3 linked regions of the Homo sapiens genome follow. The protein of the gene in region 1 purifies or fractionates together with the protein of each later gene. This does not show direct contact. Each region holds a gene or a part of one and is shown in the gene's direction. Other genes may lie near its edges.

Evidence for each region.
Region 2: the proteins of SLBP (region 1) and CCNF purify together in Homo sapiens (affinity purification with western blotting; 2 studies listed by BioGRID, with this or other methods). This does not show direct contact.
Region 3: the proteins of SLBP (region 1) and ACAD11 purify together in Homo sapiens (co-immunoprecipitation; 2 studies listed by BioGRID and IntAct, with this or other methods). This does not show direct contact.

The regions. Positions count from the first base shown.
Region 1 is NC_000004.12:1,690,532-1,696,198, reverse strand, and holds the end of SLBP (histone RNA hairpin-binding protein), read left to right. Parts: intron 1-1,358; coding exon 1,359-1,425; intron 1,426-2,485; coding exon 2,486-2,602; 3' UTR 2,603-3,468; downstream 3,469-5,667. UniProt on the Homo sapiens protein: RNA-binding protein involved in the histone pre-mRNA processing.
Region 2 is NC_000016.10:2,431,327-2,440,904, forward strand, and holds part of CCNF (cyclin-F), read left to right. Parts: intron 1-1,634; coding exon 1,635-1,741; intron 1,742-4,479; coding exon 4,480-4,547; intron 4,548-5,802; coding exon 5,803-5,996; intron 5,997-6,743; coding exon 6,744-6,797; intron 6,798-8,026; coding exon 8,027-8,131; intron 8,132-8,422; coding exon 8,423-8,500; intron 8,501-9,578. UniProt on the Homo sapiens protein: Substrate recognition component of a SCF (SKP1-CUL1-F-box protein) E3 ubiquitin-protein ligase complex which mediates the ubiquitination and subsequent proteasomal degradation of target proteins.
Region 3 is NC_000003.12:132,648,632-132,658,209, reverse strand, and holds part of ACAD11 (acyl-CoA dehydrogenase family member 11), read left to right. Parts: intron 1-3,539; exon of another isoform or gene 3,540-3,780; intron 3,781-9,578. UniProt on the Homo sapiens protein: Acyl-CoA dehydrogenase, that exhibits maximal activity towards saturated C22-CoA.

The DNA.
Region 1 (5,667 bases):
TGTCTTTATTGCATTCTTGTCCTGTGATTCTCTGATTGGTCCAGTGACTGGAGCAGCTGCGCACCACTGGGACAGGAGGTCTGGTGCCAAGTCCCCCAGCAGCTGTTGGGGAGCAGAGCAGCTGCTGCAGCTCGGTGCTGAGTTCTTCTGTACTGGGAGGGAGGCAGCTGGAAGGAAGAGTTTGCTTCCTGGATTGAATTTATTTTTTCAAGCAAAGTCAATCTGGGAATACAGTTTTTGTTTGTTGTTTTGCTGTTTTTGTTGTTGTAGTTGTTTTTCCCCTAAAAATTACAATAATCTCTGGAATTTGTTTTTTAAATATAAATATCCTAAAAAGTATTTGAGTCATTTCGGCTCAACCATGAAAATAAAAGTTCTTAATTAAGGAAGGAAGGCTTTCTTTCTCTGTTGGCTTTTTTTTTTTGGGAGATGCTCTGTCACCGAGGCTGGAGTGCAGTGGCGTGATCCCGGCTCACTGCAACCTTCACCTTCTGGGTTCAGGTGGTTCTCCTGCCTCAGCCTCCTGAGTAGCTGGGATTACAGGCACGCGCCACCACGCCCAGCTATTTTTTGTATTTTTAGTGGAGACGGGGTTTCACCATGTAATTCCTGACCTTGTGATCTACCCGCCTCAGCCTCCCAAAGTGCTGGGATTACAGGGGTGAGCCACTGCTCCCAGCCCCGTTGGCCTTTAAACTTGTGCCTAGTTGAAATGTCTCAGGCCTGAACTTTTGCTGCATCATGGCAATACCTGCTGACCAGGAAGGTAGAGAGAATGATCGTGTACCTCCCTCCCTCTATGTGGGGTTTCTTCTCAGCTCCCCTCTGGTCCTGAGCCTCTCGCTTCCTCAGACACATTCTTTAAACAAACAATTAGAGTTTCTCCTCTGTGCTGGGAAATTTTTTAGAGACTGGCATGTTTGAAACGATTGTAAGTGGCTTTACCAGTTTGTCCTGACAGATGTCATTTGGGTTTTTTCCCCCAGTGTGACACCATTGTCCCATTCTCTGAGTAGAAACTTGGAAAAATTAGTGATAATGCATAGTATGTTCATCACAGTGCTCATTTCTCCCCCTCAAAAATTGGGCTTATGAGTGTTTCTGTTTCCAAGGATGCTTGTGTGGTGAGCCCAGCAGATCTTTTTGTTGCTTCTCATTGCCATCCGCTTTCTCTTTGCTGGATTGATTGGGCTGGGATTAAGTCTGTCAAATAGTCACTGAAAGCTGACCCCTCAGGGAGCCTCGGGCACACTGTCAGTGTTGTGGCTGTACCATATGGATGGGGTTTGTCTGTAGCGCCCCGTCTCCTGGCTTTGTTAAGTTAGTGCCTGACGCACATGTTGGATCTTGTTTAACAGACACCCTGTAGACCTTGAATCTGCAGAAAGCAGCTCCGAGCCCCAGACCAGCTCTCAGGATGACTTTGTAAGTACTTTGGATAAGTCTTTCAGCTTGGGGGTTGCAGGTGAATTGTTAATAACACATGCTGCCTTATAAACTGAAGTTTGGACTGGGCACGGTGGCTCACGCCTGTAATCCCAGCACCTTGGGAGGCCAAGGCAGGCGGATCACCTGAAGTCAGGAATTCAAGACTAGCCTGGCCAACATGGTGAAACCCTGTTTCTACAAAAATACAAATAATAGCCAGGTATGATGGTGGGTGCCTGTAGTCCGTGCTACTCAGGAGGCTGAGGTGGGAGAATAGCTTGAACCCAGGAGGTGGAGGTTGCAGTGAGCTGAGATGGCGCCATTGCACTCCAGCCTGGGCAACAGAGCAAGACTCTGTCTCAAAAAAAAAAAAAGAAAGAAAACCATGTGCTGCGCGTGGTGGCTCACGCCTGTGATCCCAGCACTTTGGGAGGCTGAGGCAGGCAGATCACCTGAAGTCAGGAGTTCAAGACCAGCCTGCCCAACATAGTGAAACCCAGTCTCTACTAAAAATACAAAAACTAGCTGGGTGTGGTCATGCAGGCATGTAATCCCAGCTACTCAGGAGGCTGAGGCAGGAGAATCACTTGAACCCGGGAGGCAGAGGTGGCAATGAGCCGAAATTGTACCACTGCCCTCCACCCTGTGTGACAGAGTGAGACTCTGTCTCAAGAGAAAAGAAAACCGTTTTTAAATGTATCAGTTTAAATACTGTCTCCTGTCCTGAGACAGCCACTATTTGTGGTTTTGTCTAGGCTTTTACAATTCTTTCTGTGCTTATAAACTATGTACATGGCCAGGCACAGTGACTAGTGACTCCTTCCTGTAATCCCAGCACAATGGGATGTGTGCACATCTAAACGTCAGTGTCTTGTAAATGGTACATGTGGTTTCTCTTTGCAGTGTTATTATTAAAATCTGTCTCAGTTGCACGTGAAGTGTACACCTTGCTGTGCATTACATCACATGATTTACCACATAAGGAGTGGGGTGTAGGAAGGGGCCCCTGTTTTCAGGGTGAGATGAATGTCAACCGAGCCATGCTTCTGTTTTCCAGGATGTGTACTCTGGCACACCCACCAAGGTGAGACACATGGACAGTCAAGTGGAGGATGAGTTTGATTTGGAAGCTTGTTTAACTGAACCCTTGAGAGACTTCTCAGCCATGAGCTAACTGCCCCCTGGCGGCCAGGAAGAGAAACAGCTCCTCCCCGACTAGGTGGAAGGCTGGCCAGGCACCAAGCATGTGTGTGCACTTGTACCTGGTGGTTTCTCTGTTAGCAGTCCATTAGCTCATGCTGAATTATTTTTGCCTTACTTTCTTAAGAAACATTAATTTTATGTATAGTGAGTATATTTTGCATGTTTTAAATTGTAAATGGAGCTAAGTCCAAGAAAGTACTTGAAGCTCTCTTCCAGCGAGCTTAATTGCGTAATCCCTGTTGTCCTCCAGGGTAAGCTGACACGTCTACATAACTGGTTTTCCACAGGCATCTTCAGTTATTGCTTGTCAGGTGGACTGTTTTGGATTTAACCATGTAATCCATGGGACCAATTGAGAGTCAGCTACTTTTATAGGCATCAAAGTATTCTCAGACACCTTTAATATCTTTATGGAAACTTAATTTTTGGCCTTTTATCAATATGTCATAACAGCATTCTGAAGTCAGACATTGTTAAATTGAGCTATTAAACTAATGAGTTTTATGTAAGTTATATGGTCTTAATTTGGTACTTGTAAATAGCACTAGTTAGACTCTTTAGAATACTCCAAGAGTTAGGGCAGCAGAGTGGAGCGATTTAGAAAGAACATTTTAAAACAATCAGTTAATTTACCATGTAAAATTGCTGTAAATGATAATGTGTACAGATTTTCTGTTCAAATATTCAATTGTAAACTTCTTGTTAAGACTGTTACGTTTCTATTGCTTTTGTATGGGATATTGCAAAAATAAAAAGGAAAGAACCCTCTTTCACTGACTGGGGCTGTTGCCAGGTGGGCCAGCTGCCGTGAGAGCTGACATGTTTGGAGGGTCAGAATTGTGTCTGCCTTTCTTGTGTCTGAAGCAAGTGGCACTCAGTGAGTGGCGCTGGGTAAAGGGCCTTCTTTATTTTTTTAATTTTATTTTTTGAGAGTTTCGCTCTTGTTGCCCAGGCTGGAGTGCAATGGTGCAATCATGGCCCACTACAACCTCTGTCTCCCGGGTTCAAGCGATTCTTCTGCCTCAGCCTCCCAAGTAGCTGAAATTACAGGTATGTGCCACCACACGCAGCTAATTTTGTATTTTTAGTAGAGACAGGATTTCTCCATGCTGGTCAGGCTGGTCTCGATCTCCCGACCTCAAGTGATCTGCCTGCCTCGGCCTCCCAACGTGCTGGGATTACAGGTTTGAGCCACTGCGTGTGGCCGGGGGCCTTCTTTAATAGGTGTCACATGTCACATTTGGTCTGATGCTTATTCATCAGCACTGGCATGACAGCCTTCCCTGTCTCTTGGGAGAGACCCTGCAGCAGGATAATCATCAGTCTGAGGGTGCCCTGCTCCCACTGCCTTCACCCTTGGACCGTGGTTGCTGCCTGCAGACGTGACCACTAGTCCACGCCACAGCGACCTGTCCCGGAGATCCCTCCAAGTGATGCTGGGCTGGTCTTAAGCCAGGGATGGGCTCAGGTAACTTTGTTCTAGGAGCTTGAAGAGGGCAGAAGCTCTTGTTTACTTAGCTTGTTTATGGAGACCTCAAGCAGTGTCAGGTGGAGGGTGGTAGACACTGGGGTTGTAGCACATGCCCTGGTGAGGAGACCCAGCTCTTTCAGGGTGGTAGGAGGTGCCTGATAAAAGGTGACATCTGGGGAGGGCAGCAAGCAGAGGCCACGAAGTGGGAGCACTCAGCATTGACTTCAAGAGTCCTAAAATGTGGGAGGAGTTCTGGGGGCCTGACTGCAAGCCTCAGTCTTGAGAAGGCAGAGGTGAAGGTCCTTGTTAGATGGTGACAGTTCAGTGGTGCTGTGGCCTCCATCATGACTGACGGAGAGCAGCTCTCCTGGGTTTGTCACTAAGGAGCTACTTCCCCTAAACTGTGAGCAGGTCCTTAGCGATGAGCAGCACTCAGTGCTCTTAGGCTAAAATTCAGTGGCTTCCAAGCAAAAATGACATCCAGAAGACAGCTGGAAAGGTGATCTAAGCTAAAGCTGAGGGTGTGGCATGAAATCCTCTGTTAACCATAGAAAGTTGAACCTTTCTCTCTCTTTTCACTGGAGTGCAGTGGTGTGCCTTCAGCTCACTGCAACCTCCACCTCCTTTGGCTCAAGCAATTCTCCTGCCTGTCTCCTGAGTAGCTGGGATTACAGGCGTGAACCACCACACCTGGCCAATTGTTGTAGTTTTAGTAGAGTTGGGGTTTCGCCATGTTGGCCACGCTGGTCTTGACCTCAGGCGATCTGCCCTCCTCGGCCTCCCAAGGTGCTAGGATTACAGGTGTAAGCCACCGCGCCCAGCTGTTAGAACCTTTCTTTCCCTCAATAAGACTTCTTGCTCCTCTGCAGGAGCCCAAGATGGTGCTAGTCTGAAAAGCCCCACAGGTGTGGCTTCTAATGAACTGAACCCTATTAAGAGTCACAGAATTAACATGGGCGGAAGCTGCTGCCAGGCTGGACTGAAAGGGCCAGGCAATACAAGAGGCCTTGAACCCTCAGGTTCCTACCAGCGGGAAGTAGGAAGATAAAACTCTCCAGCTGCAAACACAGGCTGCCTTTTGTGAAAAAGAAGGATAATTCAGAGATGGAGCCAGGAGCCTGGAGGACTGAGGCTGGCTTAGGGGACTGCCAGGTGATGTGTGCCCAGCTGGATTTCAGACTTGCTGTGGGCCAGGGACTCCTGGGAGCATTTGCAGCAGGTGTCCTAGGTCTGTCCCCGCTGTTCATTGCGGTGGGGGTGTGTGTGTGTGTGTGTGTGCATGTGTGTGGTGGGGGCTGGGGACAGTCTTTACATGGAGAGAGGCTCAACACAGGAGCTGTCAGGAGCCTCCTCCACAAGGCAGTGGATTCAGGTGAGATTCTGGGCTTTTTAAACTAGAATGCTTAGTTTCAAATCTAACAACACATGTATGGGACCTGTATGCTGAAAACGGCACAACCCTGATGAAACAAAGATCTAGTAAGTGGAGAAATGTAACTTGTTCATGGATTGGAAGACTCAATATAGATGTCAATTCTTGGGCCGGGCGCAGTGGCTCATGCCTG
Region 2 (9,578 bases), on another chromosome or scaffold:
ATTATACCATCAGGCCTTGTGTTCTTAACTGTCAGAACAAAACTTTGGCTAAAAAAGAGGTTGGGGCAGAGGCCAGGCACGGTGGCTCATGCCTTAATCCTAGCACTTTGGGAGGCCGAAGGGGGGTGGATCACCTGAGGTCAGGAGTTCCAGACCAGCCTGGCCAACTTGGCAAAACCCCCATCTCTACTAAAAATACAAAAATTAGCCGGGCGTGGTGTCTCACGCCTGTAATCCCAGCTACTAGGGAGGCTGAGGCGGGAAAATTGCTTGAACCTGGGAGGCAGAGCTTGCAGTGAGCCGAGATCACATCATTGCACTCCAGCCTGGGCGACAGAGCGAGACTCTGTCTCAAAAAAAAAAAAAAAAAAAGGAGGGCAAAAAGGAAACAAGGATGATATCATTACCAGATGCTTTCTTTAAGACATTCTGATTACAGAAATTCCTACTGCTGTCTCCTAGCACACTAAAATTGCCTCTGTTCATTGCAGTGTCAACAAAGAAAGTACCTTTTTTTTTTTTGAGACAGAGTCTCGCTCTGCCACCCAGGCTGGAGTGCAGTAGCGCAATCTCGGCTCACTGCAAGTTCCGCCTCCCAGGTTCATGCCATTCTCCTACCTCAGCCTTCCGAGTAGCTGGGACTACAGGCACCCGCCACCACGCCCGGCTAATTTATTGTATTTTTAGTAGAGTTGGGGTTTCACTGTGTTAGCCAGGATGGTCTCTATCTCTTGACCTCGTGATCCGCCCGCCTCGGCCTCCCAAAGTGCTGGGATTACAGGCATGAGCCACTGCACCCGGCTGAAAGTACCCTTTTATGGCAGTGAAATTTGCATCCCTTAAAAAATAGGATAGTGTTTAAAAGAATAAGAATACATTCTTGAGGACAAATTCCATGTAACATTTAACACTGAAATGGACTCTAGGAGTTATTTTCTAGATATTGGAACCATAGGCTTACTTTGAGTGACTTAACCTAGAGTATATAGTGGATTCATGGGGAAATGCCAGCAAGAACCCATTTTCTGACTCCCAAAGCCACCTCCATTGCAGGTGCGACACACTTTATGGACCCCAGGGGGTGCTGAATTTCCAATGGCAGTGGAAACTTTGGTGCTTAAAGTGTTCACCTGTGCTCCAGGTCCTGGCCTGGACACTCCTGCGTTGGCCCAGCGCTTAGGCTCCGGGTTCTACCTGAGACCTCCATCATGGGTGTTGTTCTTTGCCCTGAGTCCCTGTGACCTGTTTCCACACTCCCACTAGCAAGGCCTCCAGCGGGGAAGCACAAAACACATTTCCGTCCTGCCTGCCCCCTTTTAGAGTGTTTCCCCTGTCTTTGGGGGTGATACCTTTGCAGGGATGTTGAACCCTCTTTCTCAGCCTAGGTGTTTGTTTCCTCCTTCCCAGATCATTGTCCTCTGCCCTGCTTTAGAACCTCAGAGAAACTCGTTTCTGGGCTCTTTTATCTGCTCAAAGTGACAGTTACTTTCACACAGAGATTGGGGACCTCAACTACTTGGGATGGCGAGGGAGACAGGAGACCCTACATCTGCCTCTCGTCCTCAAGAGCCTCCAGGTGTGGGGCTTTTGGGTGGTGCCTCCATCACCCAGCCCCGGCCCCCGTTGTTCTGCAGGTACACTCCCAGCTGAAGGACCTGGTGGACAACCACGCCAGTGTGTGGGCATGTGCCAGCTTCCAGGAGCTGTGGCCGTCTCCAGGGAACCTGAAGCTCTTTGAAAGGTATCTCTGCACCCTGAGAATGGCTCAGTCTTCTCCTGCCTTGGCCTCCCTATGTGCCAGTCTGTGTCTCACGGCCTGATTCAGCAACGATTTTCCTGTTGCTGTCTCCCATGACATTGCCTCATACCCTGGGGAGTGACTGAGGGTGGCAGACCTCACGCATCAGGCCGCACAAGCCACACACCTTCCAGCAGGCTATGCAGTCAGTCATCCCTCACGCCACTGACACGGGCCCGTGGTGCCTCCAGAGGGCTGTGATCCATTCCCACATGACCCAGACAAGAGTCACCTTCCTGTGGAAACTTCACTCAGCCTTCCTTCCCTTTGGTCAAAACCATCTGAATTCTATCCTATAGCGTTTCACTCACTGGCTGATCCCACCCCAACCTGCACCCCGCACCCTGGCCCCTGTTCACATGTGCTCATGGTCCCAGGTACCCGCCGCCCTCAGAACAAACCAAGGAACCACAGCTCAGGCGGGGATTTTTCTTTTTTGTTGTTGTTTTTTGTTTTTTGTTTTCGTTTTTGTTTTTTTCTTGAGACGGAGTCTCGCTCTGTCACCAGGCTGGAGTGCAGTGGTGCAATCTCAGCTCACTGCAACCACCAACTCCTGGTTCAAGCGATTCTCCTGCCTCAGCCTCCTGAGTAGCTAGGATTACAGGCACGCGCTACCACGCCCATCTAATTTTTGTATTCTTAGTAGAGATGGGGTTTCGCCATGTTGGCCAGGATGGTCTCGATCTCCTGACCTCCTGATCTCAGGCGGGCATTTTTCTGACAGGGATTCGCTGTGAGCCTCGTCCATCTGAGTTGCCAGAAATCCAGATCGACAGCCAACCAGGGCAGGCAGCCATGTTGCCGCGGCCATGCTTGGGCTGCTTCCAGGGGGAATGTATATATTTCTTATTGAGACATTATCCACACATCACACAATTCATCCATTTAAAGTGTATAACTCAGCCGGGTGTGGCGTCACACCTGTATTCCCAGCACTTTGGGAGGCCAAGGCGGGTGGATCACTTGAGGTCGGGAGTTCGAGACCAGCCCGGCCAACATGGCAAAACCCTGTCTCTATTAAAAATACAAAAATTAGCTGGATGCGGTGATGGGCACTTGTAGTCCCAGCTACTCTGGAGGCTGAAGCATGAGAATTGCTTAAACCCAGCAGGTGGAGGTTGCAGTGAGCCAAGATTGCGCCATTGCACTCCAGCCTGGGTGATGGGGTAAGACTGTCTCAAAAAAATAATAATAAAATAATAAAATATGGCTGGGCACAGTGGCTCACGCCTGTAATCCCAGCACTTTGGGAGACCAAGGCGGGCGGATCACGAGGTCAAGAGTTTGAGACCAGCCTGAGCAACATGGTGAAACCCTGTCTCTACTAAAAATACAAAAATTAGCTGGGTGGTGGCACATGCCTGTAATGCCAGCTATTCAGGAGGCTGAGGCAGGAGAATTGCTTGAACCCAGGAGGCAGAGGTTGCAGTGAGCCGAGATCGCACCACTGCACTCCAGCCTGAGCAACAGAGCGAGACTCCGTCTCAAAATAAATAAATAAGTAAATAAATAAATAAAATGTATAACTCATTGGTTTTTAGTATACTGAGAGTTGTACAGACATCACCAGTACTTAACTTTAGAACGTTCTCCTTACCCCAAGAAGAAAGCTTGTCCCCATCAGCAGTCACTTCCCATTTTCCCCACAATCCTGGAAACTCTAGACAACCCCTAATTGATTTTCTGTCTCTCCGGATTTGCCTTTTGTGAGGATTTCACATGGAATCATGCAACACGTGGTCTTTCGTGGCTGGCTTCTTTCACGGACCCTGATGTTTTCAAGGTTCATCTGTGTCATAGCATGTAATGGATAATTCGTATTTGATTACATGTTATTAAGAAATGTTCGACCGAGCGTGGTGGCTCACGCTTGTAATCCCAGCACTTTGGGAGGCCGAGGCGGGTGGATCATGAGATCAGATCGAGACCATCCTGGCTAACATGGTGAAACCCCGTCTCTACTAAAAATAGAAAAAATTAGACAGGCGTGGTGGCGGGCACCTGTGGTCCCAGCTACTCGGGAGGCTGAGGCAGGAGAATGGTGTGAACCTGGGAGGCGGAGCTTGTAGTGAGCCGAGATTGCGCCACTGCACTCCAGCCTGGGCAACAGAGCAGACTCCGTCTCAAAAAAAAAAAAGAAAAGAAAAGAAAAAAAAAAAGAAATGTTCTAGAGCCGGGCATGATGGCTCAAGCCTATAATCCCAGCACTTTATGAGGCCAAGGCAGGAGGATCACTTGGGTCTGGAATTCAAGACTAGCCTGGGCAACATAGCAAGACCCTGTCTCTAGAAAAGAAAATATTTTTTTTTGACTAGCTGAGCATGGTGGCACATGCCTGTAGTCCTAGCTACTTGGGATGCCGGGGTGGGAGAATGGCTTAAGCCCAGGAGGTTGAGGCTGCAGTGAGCTGTGATCGCACCACTGCACTCCAGCCTGGGCAACAGAGCAAGACCCTGTCTCAGAGAGAGAGAGATATATATATATATATGCACACACACACACACATATATATGCACACACATATATATATGCACACACACACATATATATATATATATATATATATATATATATATATATTCAATTCAGGGAACAAGTATTCTGACTTCTTCAAGTGCTGTAGTAGTTCATAACGTTTGTGGCATAAAATATTGTGATGCTTTATGTTCTTAATGTTTCAGGGCTGCTGAAAAGGGGAATTTCGAAGCTGCTGTGAAGCTGGGCATAGCCTACCTCTACAATGAAGGCCGTAAGTCCTCACCCCACCTGCATGTTGGCGCTTCAGATAAGTGTGAGCCTTTGGCCCTATGAAGAAGTGGTCCCCGTGTTAGCAGTTCAGTTGCTGTCCTTGCTCTATCCGATGGCCTGCCTCCCCATTCCCTCTCAGGAGCTCGTGCCCAGATGTACCCTGCTGAGGGACCTGCTAATGATACTCTGACTTTGCAGGTTACGAAAGTCGCCTCTTGTTTTAGCAAACCCTTTAATTTCAGTTGGCAAAGAGTGACTGAGCCAGAGCCTCAGCACGGGGGCTGTTTGGGCTCCCTGCCCTGTGCGCCATGAGCACGCAGACCTGCCTGTGGATGCTGGCCCTCTCCTTGGCCATCCTCTTAGAACTCTCGAGACAGAGTTCAGCGTGCCCTGTAACACAGAGCCAGGCTTCTAAACGGGAAGCAGGTACAGGCAGGTTAGAACTGGCCTGGTGCCTGGATCCCTTCATCCCCAGAGGCCAGGTGCTCCTTGAAAGAAACTTGCGCAGCCTTTTCTTCTACCAGTTAACTGCTTATCTGCTCAGCACCCCAAGGAACGAGCCCATGATCTGTCCCAGCTCTCAAAACAAGTAAACACTGGGATGTAGCCTCCCACATTTGTACTTCTAAACGATCTGGTGTCTTGCTGGGAGAGAGTCCCTACCTGGCCGGCTGGCAGAATTGTGACTGACAGGGACCATGAGCAACACCCTCCTCCAGAATCAGGGGAGCCGAGGTCCTACCCCTACCCTCCCATCAAAGAGCAGTTCCCAGACATAAAATTCACACACCATACAGTTCACCCCTCTAAAGCCTGCAATTCTGTGGTTTTTTAGGATATTCACAGGGTTGTGCAGCCATTGCCACTGTCTAATTTTAGAATATTCTCCTCGTCCCAAAAAGAACCCCCACCCCTGCCCTGGACCCATTACCAGGGGTCAGGCGGTGGTTCCCAGCTGGAGGGAGGGTGGGACATGAAGCGTCGCGGGGTCTCCTTCCCCTGACCTTCAGAATCCAGGCTTCCGGGAGGACCACAGCAGGGGCATTGATCACAATGACCCACCTGTTCTAGACATTAATGAAGTAGGGGGAGAAAAGACAGGTGCCCCCATCCTGGAGGGCTCTACTCTCCTGAAACACAGCTGCTTTGCACTATGGTGGGCTTCAGGCATTACACTTTCCACCAAGACCATGGAGAGCTTTCCACATTCCGTCCCTAAGAGACATCCCTGGGCTCTGTCCTGTCTGTCCCCGCAGTGTCTGTGTCTGATGAGGCCCGCGCAGAAGTGAATGGCCTGAAGGCCTCTCGCTTCTTCAGTCTCGCTGAGCGGCTGAATGTGGGTGCCGCACCTTTCATCTGGCTCTTCATCCGCCCTCCGTGGTCGGTGAGCGGAAGCTGCTGCAAGGCCGTGGTTCACGAGAGCCTCAGGGCAGAGTGCCAGCTGCAGAGGGTGAGTCTGGGCGAGGGGCAGCACCTGCGAGGCCACCTGCAGGGTCCCAGGACACAGGAAGACCCCGAGGGTAGATCCTGGACCCTGGAAAGTCAGGAGCCTAAGGGAAGTGAAGATGCAGAAAACTGAGAGTGCAGATATGGGGAACGCATCTGGAAATCAGCTGGCACAGAGGAGGAAGCCTGAGAGCCAGGGTGGGCTGTGGAGTTCTGGGTACACGTGCTGACAGCTGGAAACATGGGGCTGAGGCTGCATGGGGCAGTGGGAGCTCAAGACACAAATCTGGCCAGGTGTGGTGGCTCACGCCTGTCATCCTAGCACTTTGGGAGGCCGAGGCTGGAGAATTGCTTGTGGCCAGGTGTTCGAGACCAGTCTGGGCAACATGATGAAATCTCGAAACCTCGTCTCTACAAAAAATACAAAAAAGTTAGCCAGGGGTGGTGGTGCATACCTATAGTCCCAGCTACTCAGGAGGCTGCGGTGGGAGGATCGCTTGAGCCTGGGAGGTTGAGCTTGCAATGAGCCGTGACTATGCCAATGCACTCCAGCCTGGGTGACAGAGCAAGACCCTGTTTCCCTTTAAAAAAAAAAAAAAAAAAAGACTGAAATCTGGGAGTGGCCCTCTGCAGGGGAGGGAGGGCCAGACAGCAGGGCCATGGGCATGGGACCCAAAGACAGACAAGGGAGTGGTGGCCCCCGGGCAGTTCTCTGTGCTGGAAATCACACTTCTTTCTCCTTTTTTTAAAGACTCACAAAGCATCCATATTGCACTGCTTGGGCAGAGTGCTGAGTCTGTTCGAGGTGAGTCAAGTTGTTCTCTGCACTGGGACTTTGTGTTCGATACATCCCTAGCCGAGATCCTGGAACTGAAAAGCAGCAGAAGGGGGTGTCCAAGGCCCAAAACAAAAGGCAAGCCTTGCCCAGAAAGGCCTAGCTGGAGAAGCCAGGGGACACATGTGGGCCTGGCCACGGGCTCCGATCCTGGCTCCATGACCCGCCTGGCAGGGGAGTGGGGGACGGTGAGAACAGCAGAGCAGATCTCAAGGAGGCATCGAACCTCGATGCTCACTCGTCTGCTGGCCCTGCTCCTCGTGGGCCTCTCCTGCTCGTGTGGACCTCTCTGCCTGGCCAAAATGGTGAAACCACGTCTTTACTAAAAAACACAAAAATTAGCTGGGCGTGGTGGCGGGTGCCCATAATCCCAGCTACTCAGGAGGCTGAGGCAGGGAGAATTGCTTGAACCTGGGAAGCGGAGGTTGCAGTGAGCCGAGATTGCACCACTGCACTCCAGCCTGGCAACAGAGTGAGACTCAGTCTCAGAAAAAAAAAAAAAAAGTATGGAAAAGGAGGAAGATGGTGAGTAGAGTGATTGAACATCAAGTAAAGAATAAGGGCCGGTCATGGTGGCTCATTCCTGTAATCCCAGCACCTTGGGAGGCCGAGGCGGGTGGATCACCTGAGGTCAGGAGTTTGAGACCAACCTGGCCAATGTGTTGAAACCACGTCTTTACTAAAAAACACAAAAATTAGCCGGGCATGGTGGTGGGCACCTGTAATCCTAGCTACTTGGGAGGCTGAGGCATGAGAGTTGCTTGAACCCGGGAAGCTGAGGTTTTAGTTAGCCAAGATCGTGCCACTATACTTTGGCCTGGGTGACAGAGGGAGACTCTGCCTCAACAACAACAAAAAAACCAGCCAGGCACAGTGGCTCATGCCTGTAATCCCAGCACTTTGGGAGACTGAGGTGGGTGGATCACCTGAGGCCAGGATTTTGAGACCAGCCTGGCCAACATGGTGAAACCCCGTCTCTACTAAAAATACAAAAATTAGCCGGGCATGATGGTGGGCTCCTGTAATCCCAGCTACTCAGGAGGCTGAGGCAGGAGAATTGGTTGAACCCAGGAGGCGGAGGTTGCAGTGAGCCAGGATGGCGCCATTGCACTCCAACCTGGGCGACGAGTGAAACTGTCTCAAAAAATAAAAATGAAAAAGAATAAGGGAACAATGAACTCTGCTGGGATTTATTCTAGGATGAGGAGAAGCAGCAGCAGGCCCATGACCTGTTTGAGGAGGCTGCTCATCAGGGATGTCTGACCAGCTCCTACCTCCTCTGGGAAAGCGACAGGAGGACAGATGTGAGTGGTGCCTGCTCTGGGTCGGGGGGAGTTATGCTGGACAAAGGCGTAGTTGATGCTGGTCCTTGGATGCGTTTCTGTCCACAAAAGGGAGGTGGCTCTTGCTGCTCCCGGTCTCTCAGCCTCCGGGAACCACTGGTCAGTCGGCTATTCTTGGTACCCCCAAAAATGACTCCACCATTTGAGAGAGAAGAGGTGGGAAGTTAGCGTAGTGTCGGCCCTTCTGGGTCTTGGTTCTGAGTTCCTCCCAAGACACAGTTGTACAAAGGCTCGGTGATCTCCCATTGACAGGTGTCAGATCCTGGGCGATGCCTCCACAGCTTCCGAAAACTCAGGGACTACGCTGCCAAAGGCTGCTGGGAAGCGCAGGTGAGGTGCGGGGCTGGGATGACGTGGGGAGCTGGCCTTTCTCCCTCCAGCCTTGGGGCAGGACTATCTGGGCTCCCACATTGGGGGGCAGGACTATCTGGGCTCCCACATGGGAGGCCAGGATTGAGGGACACCCTAAGATCGGTTCAGCACTGGAACTGGTCCTAAAGGACAGGTACACTGTGAGAAGAGCTGGGAAATGCGTTATTCATCTCTGCCTATCCACTCTTGCCTCTCAGCCAGCCAACCTCTTAATTTTCAAATGCTTGTGAGCTATAGCTGCTGTCAAAATTTGTGCCATTCTTGAAAGTTGTCCCATAGGTAGAACTGATCTTGACAACAAAACTTGAGGCTACTTGAGAGCAGAGGGGCGTGGAGAGTCCCTTCCTGCTTCCTCTTCCTGTTAGCGCCTTGCTTGTCATGTCACCTGGTCACCAAGTCATCCAGGGCTACAGGCAGGAAATCAAGCATTGGTAGACTCTCCCCTCACAGCTATAAATAAGTTGTTAGGGCCAGGTGCGGTGGCTCACGCCTGAAATCCCAGCACTCTGGGAGGCCAAGGTGGGCGGATGACCTGAGGTCAGGAGTTCGAGACCAGCCTGGCCAACATGGTGAAACCATCGCTACTAAAAATACAAAAATTAGCTGGGCGTGGTGGCAGGCACCTGATACTCAGGAAGTTGAGGCAGGAGAATCGCTTGAACCCGGGAGGCAGAGGTTGCAGTACCACTACACTCCAGCCTGGGCGACAGAGCAAGACTCTGTCTGAAGGAAAAAAAAAGTTGTCAGGACGAATCAAAGAAAGCTCCTATTTGCCAAATGGATAGAAGCTTGTTCTTGTCACCCCACCAAGTGGGTGGCAGAGTGATCTGCGCTCAAATGCTAGGGACAAAATTACAAATTGATAATGGCCCAGCCCGAGGTGTCATAGCACATTGTGGTGTTCACGTCCAAAAAGCCAGTCTACAGATTTACAAGAAGGCCAGACGTGATGGCTCACGCCTGCAATCCCAGCGCTGTAGGAGGTTGAGTTGGGAGGATCGCTTGAGCCCAGGAGTTCAAGACCAGCTCTGGCAAC
Region 3 (9,578 bases), on another chromosome or scaffold:
CAGAAACTCAAAAGAATCAATCTTTATATTTTGAAAATGTGTGTTTTGGCCAGGTGCAGTGACTCACACTTGTAATCCCAGCACTTTGGGAGGCCGAGGCACGTGGATCACTTGAGGTCAGGAGTTCAAGACCAGCCTGGCCAACATGGTGAAACCCCCATCTCTACTAAAGATACAAAAATTAGCCGGGCGTGGTGGCACGTGCCTGTAGTCCCAGCTACTTGGGATGCTGAGGCAGGAGAATCGCTTGAACCAGGAGAGGGAGGTTGCAGTGAGCCAAGATTGCACCACCATGCTCCAGCCTAGGTGACAGAGTGAGACTCAAAAAAAAAAAAAAAAAAAAGGAATATGTGTTTTTTTAATACCAAAAGTTTAACAGAAGATAGCTAACAAATACATGTTTATAAATTAAGTGATTCATGGATTAAAGAGCCAATAATCTACATAGACAGTAAAAGACTATCAAAGTTCAGTGTACAGAAATCAACTGCATTTCTCTACTTTAGCAACAGTTAAAATGTAATTTTCAAAAACTTACAGGAGCATCAAAAATATAAATTACCTAAGTAAAAGATGTGCAATACCTTTGTAGAGAAATGATAAAACTTTTATTAGGACCTTAAAAAGAATTTTAAAAATTGAGAGATGCCATGTTGTTGAATAGGAATATTCAATATTGCAAACTTTTTTCTTCCAGTTGATCTATTGATTCAAAGCAATGACAATCAAAATCCTAATTTTTTTCTCTAATTTGAAAAAGTGCTCCTAAATTTTATGTGTAAGAGCGAAGGGCTAAGGATAGCAGAAACATTTTTAAAGAACCACAAGGTGGGAAATTTGAGTTAAGATGGTATGATATTAGCACAGAGATAGACAGACCAATAAAATAGAACAGAGAGTTCACAGAAAGACCCACATATTTATAGAAGTTTGATAAGTGACAATGTTGGCACTGAGAGTCAGTGGGGGGAAAAGAAGAACTTTTCAAGAAGTTATACTGGAATAATTGTTATCTGTATGAAGAAATAGAAATTAGACTCTTTATCTCACACAGTTCCAGGTAGATAAAAGAACTGAATGTTAAACTATAAATGTTTGGAAGATGTGTAAGTTATATTTTTGACTTTAGAGAAGAAAATATTTTAAAGACAACAGCAGAAACCACAAAGGAAATGACTGATAAATTTTCATTAAAAGACTTAAAGTGAAAAGACAGAAGAAAATATTTTCAGTGCATATAATGGTTAAAATATTCAGAATATAACTATAATAGCTCACCAGAAAAATGGGCGAAAACTTGATGATGCTCAACTTTATTATACTGTAGTAATAAGGGAAATGCAAATTAAAAAAAAAAAAACAACACAATGAGAAACCATTTCACACCACCAAATTGACTTTTAAAAAATCTGACAATAGACTGGGTGCAGTGGCTCATGCCTGTAATCCCAGCACTTTGGGAGGCTGAAGCAGGTGGATCACCAGAGGTCGAGTTCGAGACCAGCCTGGCCAACATGGTGAAACCCCGTCTCTACTAAAAATACGAAATTAGCTGGGTGTGGTGGTGGGTACCTGTAAATCCCAGCTACTCGGGAGGCTGAGGCAGGAGAATTGCTTGAACCTGGGAGGCAGAGGCTTTAGTGAGCTGAGATCACAGCACTGCACTCCAGTCTGGGTGAGTCAGAGGCAGACTCCGTCTCAAAAAAAAAAAAAATCTGACAATATCAAGCATCAGGATATGGGGCAACAGGGACTCATATAGGGGTGTGAATTAGTATAGCTGCTATTGAAAAATAACTCAACATGATCTTGTAAAAATGAAGTTGGGAAGATACACATGACCTATGACCTAGCAGTTCTACTCATAGATACATACTCCTGAGACTTTTCTTGTACTACAGTATAAGGGGACAATCTACAAAGATGTTCATTGTACTGTTTGTAATAGCAAAAATCCAGGAAACAACACAATGTCTATAGATACAGAATGGATGAATAAATTGCAGTATATTCACATAATGGAGTAGCATACAACAGTGAAAATGATTCAGCTACAGCTGTACATAACACAGAATGAAAAACGTGAAGAAATTAACAGTATATTATATACAGAGATAAACTTCAAGGGAATGATAAATATAAAATTCAGAATGGTAGTCACTCAAGGGGAAGGACATACAGGGTTTCAAAGACAGTAATTTTCTCCGGGTAGTGAAAATGGTGTTTGTGGCATTACTATTCCTCATGCCTTACCAATTTCATAAATACTCTTTTTATCTGCAAGATTTACTTTTAAAATTTGCAAAAATTAAATCTTATTGGAAAGATAAAATATTTAGAATTAATCAATAATGAAAGTATTATATAGCTTGATACAACAAAACTTGTGATTTGCAGCTGAGTGCCTAATATGTATCTGGCACTGTATCAACCACTGAGGATGTAACAATAATCTTGCCTCCCTGGAACTTCCATTGTATTTGTAGAAGACAGACAGGAAAATCAGCTTCTGAACTTTACAATGTAGAAGTTGATATGTAACATGGAGGAAAAGAGAATAGGAAATGTTTGGGTGTGGGGCAGGAAGATTTCCTCGAGCACACGGCATTCAGCAAAGACTTGAAGGGGGATGAAAATGTGAGCCATGTAAATATCCAGGAAAAGAGTGTTCCAGACAGAGGGGACTGCTAATGCAAAGGCCCTGGAAGGGATGTGTGCCCAGTGTGTTGAGGAAACACAGCCCAAATGCCTGAAGTAGTGTAAGCAAGGGCAACAGGGACCCTGTCAGGCAATAAAGAGACTTTGGCTTTTACTTTGAATTGAGATGGAGAGAGACTTAAAACATGCTTGAGCAGAGGAGGGAAGTAATCTTTAAACAAACAAACAAACAACAACAACAAAAAAAACAGAATCTCTGCTTCTTGTGTTGAGAGTTGACTGAAGGGGCCAAGGGCAGAAGCAAGGACACCAATGTATTACAGTGTTCCAGCAGGGAGATATCAGTGGCATAGACCAGAGTGGGAGTGTAGAATGGGTAAGAAGTGGTCATAGTGTAAGTATATAGTCACATGCTGCATAATGACGTTTTGGTCAATGACGGGCTGCATATACGGCAGTGGTCCCATTAGATTATAATACTGTGTTTTTACTGTACCTTTTCTATGTTTAAATGTGTTTAGATACACAAATGCTTATCATTTTGTTACAATTAATTGCCTGCAGTATTCAGTACAGTCACATGCTGCACAGGTTTATAGCCTAGGAGCAGCAGGCTGTACCACAGAGCTCAGGTGTGTCCTATCGGGTTCAAATCAGCCTATTTATGCTAACTCCAACCAGCTGAGAAGTTTCACAACGAATCAGTGCCAATTAAATGCTTAGGAATTCACGATTTATTGTGTGGCTTCTACACAACAATCATGTAACTCTATCCAACACACATAGGCATTAATAGAGAAGGGAAACACAGCAAGTATTCTGGGAGACCAGCACACTGACTGAGAAAACCAGGTTTGGTTTTCCTCAGAATGCCCACTGACCTGGTGGTGGGTAGCTGCTCTTTTCCCAGAGGGCTTACCACAGCCAAAGGAAAGGAGGCCTCAGAGTTCTCATGGGCAGAGATTCTGCAGGCATCTCAGCCATGATTGGCTTTTACGGCTCTCCACAGACATCTCCATGGCCATTATCTTCAGCTGACTTTTGGCTTTACTTTCTTGTCAGGTGTCAGGGATGCCTGGCCACAGCAGATGCTATCTTATCACCTCAGTCCACCACACATATGCTTACTACTCTGAGTGGTCAGTGATTTCACTGTAAGCTGAGTCACTTGTCATAAGTGACTCCATTATGAGACATTTATGATCATAAAACATAATTATATATCAGTGCATAATAGGCTATACCATCTAGGTTTGTGTAAGTGCACTCTAGGATGTTTACACGTGACAAAAATCACTTAACAACATATTTTCCAGAACACATCCCTGTCATTAAGCAATGCATGACTGTATTTTGAAGGGTTTACTAACTGATTAAATGTGGGCTAGGAAAGGAAGAGACGAAGATTATTTCATTTCTGCCTTGGTAACTGAAAGAATAGGGTTATTGTGAACTGAAATGTAGGTGACTATAGAAAAGCAGATTTGAGGGGGAAATTTGAGGAACTCAGTTTTGGAGTGTTAAGTTTCAAGATGCCTTTTAGACATCCAAGTAGATATGTATAGTAAGCAGTTGGTTATGTCTTGAGGTCGGGGCAGAGATCTGGACTAGACATATAAATTTGAGAGCCATCGACAAAAAGAAGATATTTAAAGACATAAGATCGAAGGTCTTACTTAGAAAATAGTTCACATAAAAAGGAGGTTTGGAGACTGAGTCCAAGGCACCCCAATATTAAGAAGTTAGCAAATTAAGAGAAACCTACAAAGGAGTCTTAGAAGAAGTGGCCAAAGAGGTGGGGGAAAACCATGGTTTGTATTAGTGATCTTGAAAAAGTAGTATTAATGGAAAGAAGGGAATGAAAGCTTGATTGAAATGGGTTTAAGAAGATAGGAGGAGGACGTGTAATCTCTTGAGGAGTTTTTCTACGAAAGGAAATAGAAATGTTTTAAGTAGGGGGGAAGTGAGGTCAAGAGAAAGCTTTTTAAAAAATAACATCATATTTGTATGCTGATGACAGTAATCTAGAAGAGAAAATTTTGTGTAGGAGAGAGGCCTGGAAAGAAGTCCTTAAGAAGGCAGGACTCTAATATGCAAGAGAAGGGGTTGCCCTTAGATAGAAATGTGCACGTCCTTCTGCAGACTTTGGAGGGAAGACAGAATATATGTGTACAGATTATTGTATGCAGTAGATACAGTAGTGTAAGCTTGTGGAAGTTCTCATCTGATTGCTCCTATTTGCTCGTTGAAATAGGAACCTAGGTAATTAATTAGCTGAGAATGAAGATGGAGAAGAAAGTGTTTGAGGTTTGAGGAGAGAGAATTATGAAACAGCCATCCAAGAGAATGGGAGAATAAATGAGCTAAGGAAATATGATTGCCAGATGTGGTTCACTTTGAGGTTTGCTGAGGTCATGAATTTGAAGCAAGAATAGATATTTCAGTAGATATTACTAATGCTTTGTCCAGATCCTCTTGGATCCCTTTCTAGTGTTGCTGTACATGTCCTGCCTTTGTTGGTTTTTGCTTCCAATAAACAGCATCTATGCCTCTTTTTTTGGTAAACTGCCCTCAGGCTATTGGAGCACCCTTTGCTCTTACTGTTGTAGTACCTGAGGTGGACCTTAACCAATAGTGATTCAGAAGTATGAAATTTTCATTATCCTTGCTTCAGAGACATGTTTTGAACTTTGACACGGCAGAGTTCCCCCATTACCTTTACCCCCACCTACACACTGGTGAGATCAGGCTGAAGCTACCCTCTAAGGGACTTTGTCTTAGATCACACCTTTGCTTAGCTTTCTCCCCTTTCTTGACCTGCTTCCCCAAATTTCTTATTAGTTCCCCAAACATTTCCTTAATAAGTCACTTGTATATAATTTTTTTTCTCATGATCTGTTTATTGGGAACCTAACCTAAAACAGTAATTATGACTGTATGTGTCTTTCTTCAGCTATGGCCAGTTATATCAGTGTAAGCAAAAAAAAAATGGATTTAACATGGATGGGAGTTTTGCCAAGCAAACACCATGAAGTGAGGAAAGGGCAAGTGAAGTATACTGAAGGTGTATTCAAGGTAGTGGTTATATGATTTGCTATCAAATTTAACCTAGTTAAGGAAAGATTTATTAGTCTGTTCTCATATTGCTAATAAAGACATACCCGAGACTGGGTAATTTATAAAGGAAAGAGGTTTAATGGACTCACAGTTCCACATGGCTGGGGAGTCCTCACAATCATGGCAGAAGACAAAGGAAAAGCAAAGGGATGTCTTACATGAAGTCAGGCAAGAGAGAATGTGTACAGGGGAACTCTCCATTATAAAACCATCAGATCTCATGAGACTTATTCACCATCATGAGAACAGCACAGGAAAGACCCACTGCCATTATTCAATTACCTCCTACCAGGTCTCACCCATGATACATGGGAATTGGGAATTATGGGAGCTACAATTCAAGATAAGATTTGGGTGGGGACACAGCCAAACCATATCATTCCACCCCTGACCCTTCCCAAACGTCATGTCCTCATATTTTAAAATGAATCATGCCTTCTGACAGTCCCCCAAAGTCTTATTTCAGCATTAACTCAAAAGTCCACCGTCCAAAGTCTCATCTGAGACAAGGTAAGTCCCTTCTGCCTATGAGCCTGTAAAATCAAAAGCAAGCTAGTTACTTCCTAGATACAATGGGGGTACAGGCATTAGGTAAATATACCTGTTCCAAATGAGAGAAATTGTCCAAAATAAAAGGGGCTACAGGCCCCATGCAAGTCCAAAATCCAGTGGGACAGTCTTAAAGTTCTAAAATGATATCCTTTGACTCCATGTTCACATCCAGGTCACAGTGATGCAAGAGGTGGGCTCCCACAGTCTTGGGCAAAGGATATGGTCGGGGGATATGAGGTGAATGGCAGTATGATCAATGGATGGTAGGTCAAGTATTGATTGAAGGATTGTTGGAATTGAGGCACTAGCAGGAGTGAGTGGAAAGGTAGGAGGTTAGAGGTAGAAATGTTTAGAAACTAGGATTATTCAGTGCTTTTACTGTTGATATTGCTAAAGTGTAGGGTGTAACTCCTAGAATTACTGGCTGAGATAGTGTCAAGGAAAATATCACTGGTGGAGAAAATTCAAGGAACTGATGGGCCTAAATGTTAAAAGGGACATCTGTGTAGATTTTGAAATCAGTAATTAAGACAGGAGTAGTGTTAATGAGAGTAATAGTGAATTATGCCAAGATCCTTAAGAAATGAGGAGAAATGATCTGAGAGTTAGTAGGTGACTGCAAGAAAAAGGGGTAGAGGGTGGCAGAGTCTCATGGCCTGAGATTCAAAGCTGAGGGAAGAATTTACACAGGAGGGAGAGCAAAGAGTCTGGAAGTAGCAATGAGTTTCAGGAAGGATACAGACTCCATCCAGGCTTACTAGAAGACTGATGTGGGAAAAACATCTACCACTTAAGAAGCCTACAAAGGAAACAGGATCCTCATGGAATATTCAGGTTTTAGTTAGAGCAAGGAGGTGAAGGGTCTATTCAGAGAAGATATTGAAGCTGTATGGAATTGTGAAAGACTGTGAGTTCCAGGGGCACAGTGGAAGGATATCAGGAGTTGAGGGGGTGGAGAAGATGTGGGAGAAAATAGGGAATGTGCAGAGCCTTATGGGAATTACAATGCAGTAAACAAGTATAAAAGGGGAATTTGGGACTTCTGGTATTGATGATATAAAGAGGGATAAAGAACACAATGAAACCAGTTCCGGTGGTCTCAAGGTAGTAGTGCTGTCAGTGATAGGAAATGGGAAGTTGTAGGTATGTATTGGGGCTGGGGAGGGACAGTCTTACACTAAGTTAAGTAGTCTGGACTCACTGTTTTTCTTATTTTTTTAGTGATGCCAACTTTAAAAGCCTTTGTCCTCTATCATGAATTGTACTTTCTACCTATTTATCATGTGGATAAAGTGCAACTGTATTTCCTTACCCTGTGTATATTCAGATATTCAAAATGTCTAATAATATATGAAATAGCAGCCCAAGTATGATTTTTTAAAAAAACTGTCACTAAACTGACTTCCTACAAATCAGAGTAGGATTTCATGACTGTGTGTTCATGTTCAAACTTCATGTTGAGTTTTGGTTGCCTTATTCTGTTTCTGTAGTCATGGTTCCAGAAGACACACCTCTAGAGGATGGGCAACCACTTCTAGGGAAGTCCCTAGCAAAGCACCTAGCATGGTGCTAGCTCTGTTACACTGTGATAACGGCAGGGTTTTTACCCTCTCCAGCTCTTTTGGCTGATGTTAAATTCTTCCTTCTCAGTAATGAGATTCTTGACCAGTCATTGATGACTCCATTGCACTTGTCAGGAGTCTTGTGTTTGACTTCATCTTTGATTCTGCTTTGCCGTCTCTCATTTTTCACTGTGGCCTATTGAATACATAGGATCTGAGCAACTTCTTACAAGAAACTCTGTCTCTTTGTTTCTCGTTTTCCAGCTTTGTACTTCTATGCCTCTTGGACCAAATACTCAGTGTTTCCATGGGCAAACACTGGGTCATTTGTCTTTTAATCTTCTTTTTTCCTGATCTCTTATCAACAGCAAACACATTTGAGATGCTGTTGGCATCAATATAAAAAGTTATTTAAATTTGTGGAAATCCAAAGGGTTTAGGAGGAATGCCCGTGAGTTCAAATTTGCCGGGCTGGTTGTTATCCTTCATCATTGCTCACTCAATTTTGTAAACCTTAATGAGCAAACCTGAAGGGGGCCAGCCCCTCCACACCTGTGGGTATTTCTAGTCAGTCTGGACAAGAGACTGAGAAAAGAAATAAGACACAGAGACAAAGTATATAGAAAGAAAAGTGGGCCCAGGGGACCGGCGCTCAGCATACGGAGGACCTTCACCAGCACCAGTCTCTGAGTTCCCTCAGTATTTATTAATTACTGTTTTCACTGTCTCAGCAAGAGCAATGTGGCAGGACAGCAGGGTGATAGTGGGGAGAAGGTCAGCAAGAAAACATGTGAGCAAAGGAATCTGTGTCACAAATAAGTTCAAGGGAAGGTACTATGCCTAGATGTGCACGTAGGCCAGATTTATGCTTTTCTCCACCCAAACATCTCAGTAGAGTAAAGAGTAACAGAGCAGCATTGCTGCCAACATGTCTCACCTCCCACCACAGGGTGGCTTTTCTCCTATCCCAGAATTAAACAAATGTACAATTGGGTTTTATACCGAGACATTCAGTTCCCAGGGGCAGGCAGGAGACAGTGGCCTTCCTGTATCTCCACTGCAAGAGGCTTTCCTCTTTTACTAATCCTCCTCAGCACAGACCCCCTACGGGTGTCGGGCTGGGGGACGGTCAGGTCTTTCCCATCTCACGGGGCCATATTTCAGACTATCACATGGGGAGAAACCTTGGACAATACCTGGCTTTCCAGGGCAGAGGTCCCTGCGGCTTTCCGCAGTGCATTGTGCCCCTGGTTTATCGAGACTGGAGAATGGTGATGACTTTTACCAAGCATACTGCCTGCCTGTAAACATTTTGTTAACAAGGCACATCTTGCACAGCCCTAGATCCCTTAAACCTTGATTCCATACAACACATGTTTCTGTGAGCTCAAGATTGGGGCAAAGTTACAGATTAACAGCATCTCAAGGCAAAGCAATTGTTCAGGGTACAGGTCAAAATGGAGTTTCTTTTGTCTTCCCTTTCTACATAGACACAGTAACAGTCTGATCTCTCTTTTCCCTACACAAACCAAACTGGTTGTCAGAGTAGATAGTTAGTGAAGGTCTGAGTCTGTTCAGTGGTTTTATTAAACGCACTTGGTCAGAATAGTCATGATTCCACTAGTCATGATTTCCACCAAAGGAAAAGGAGTAAAATTAAAAAGCAGCAAATCCTAAATATTTTCAAAT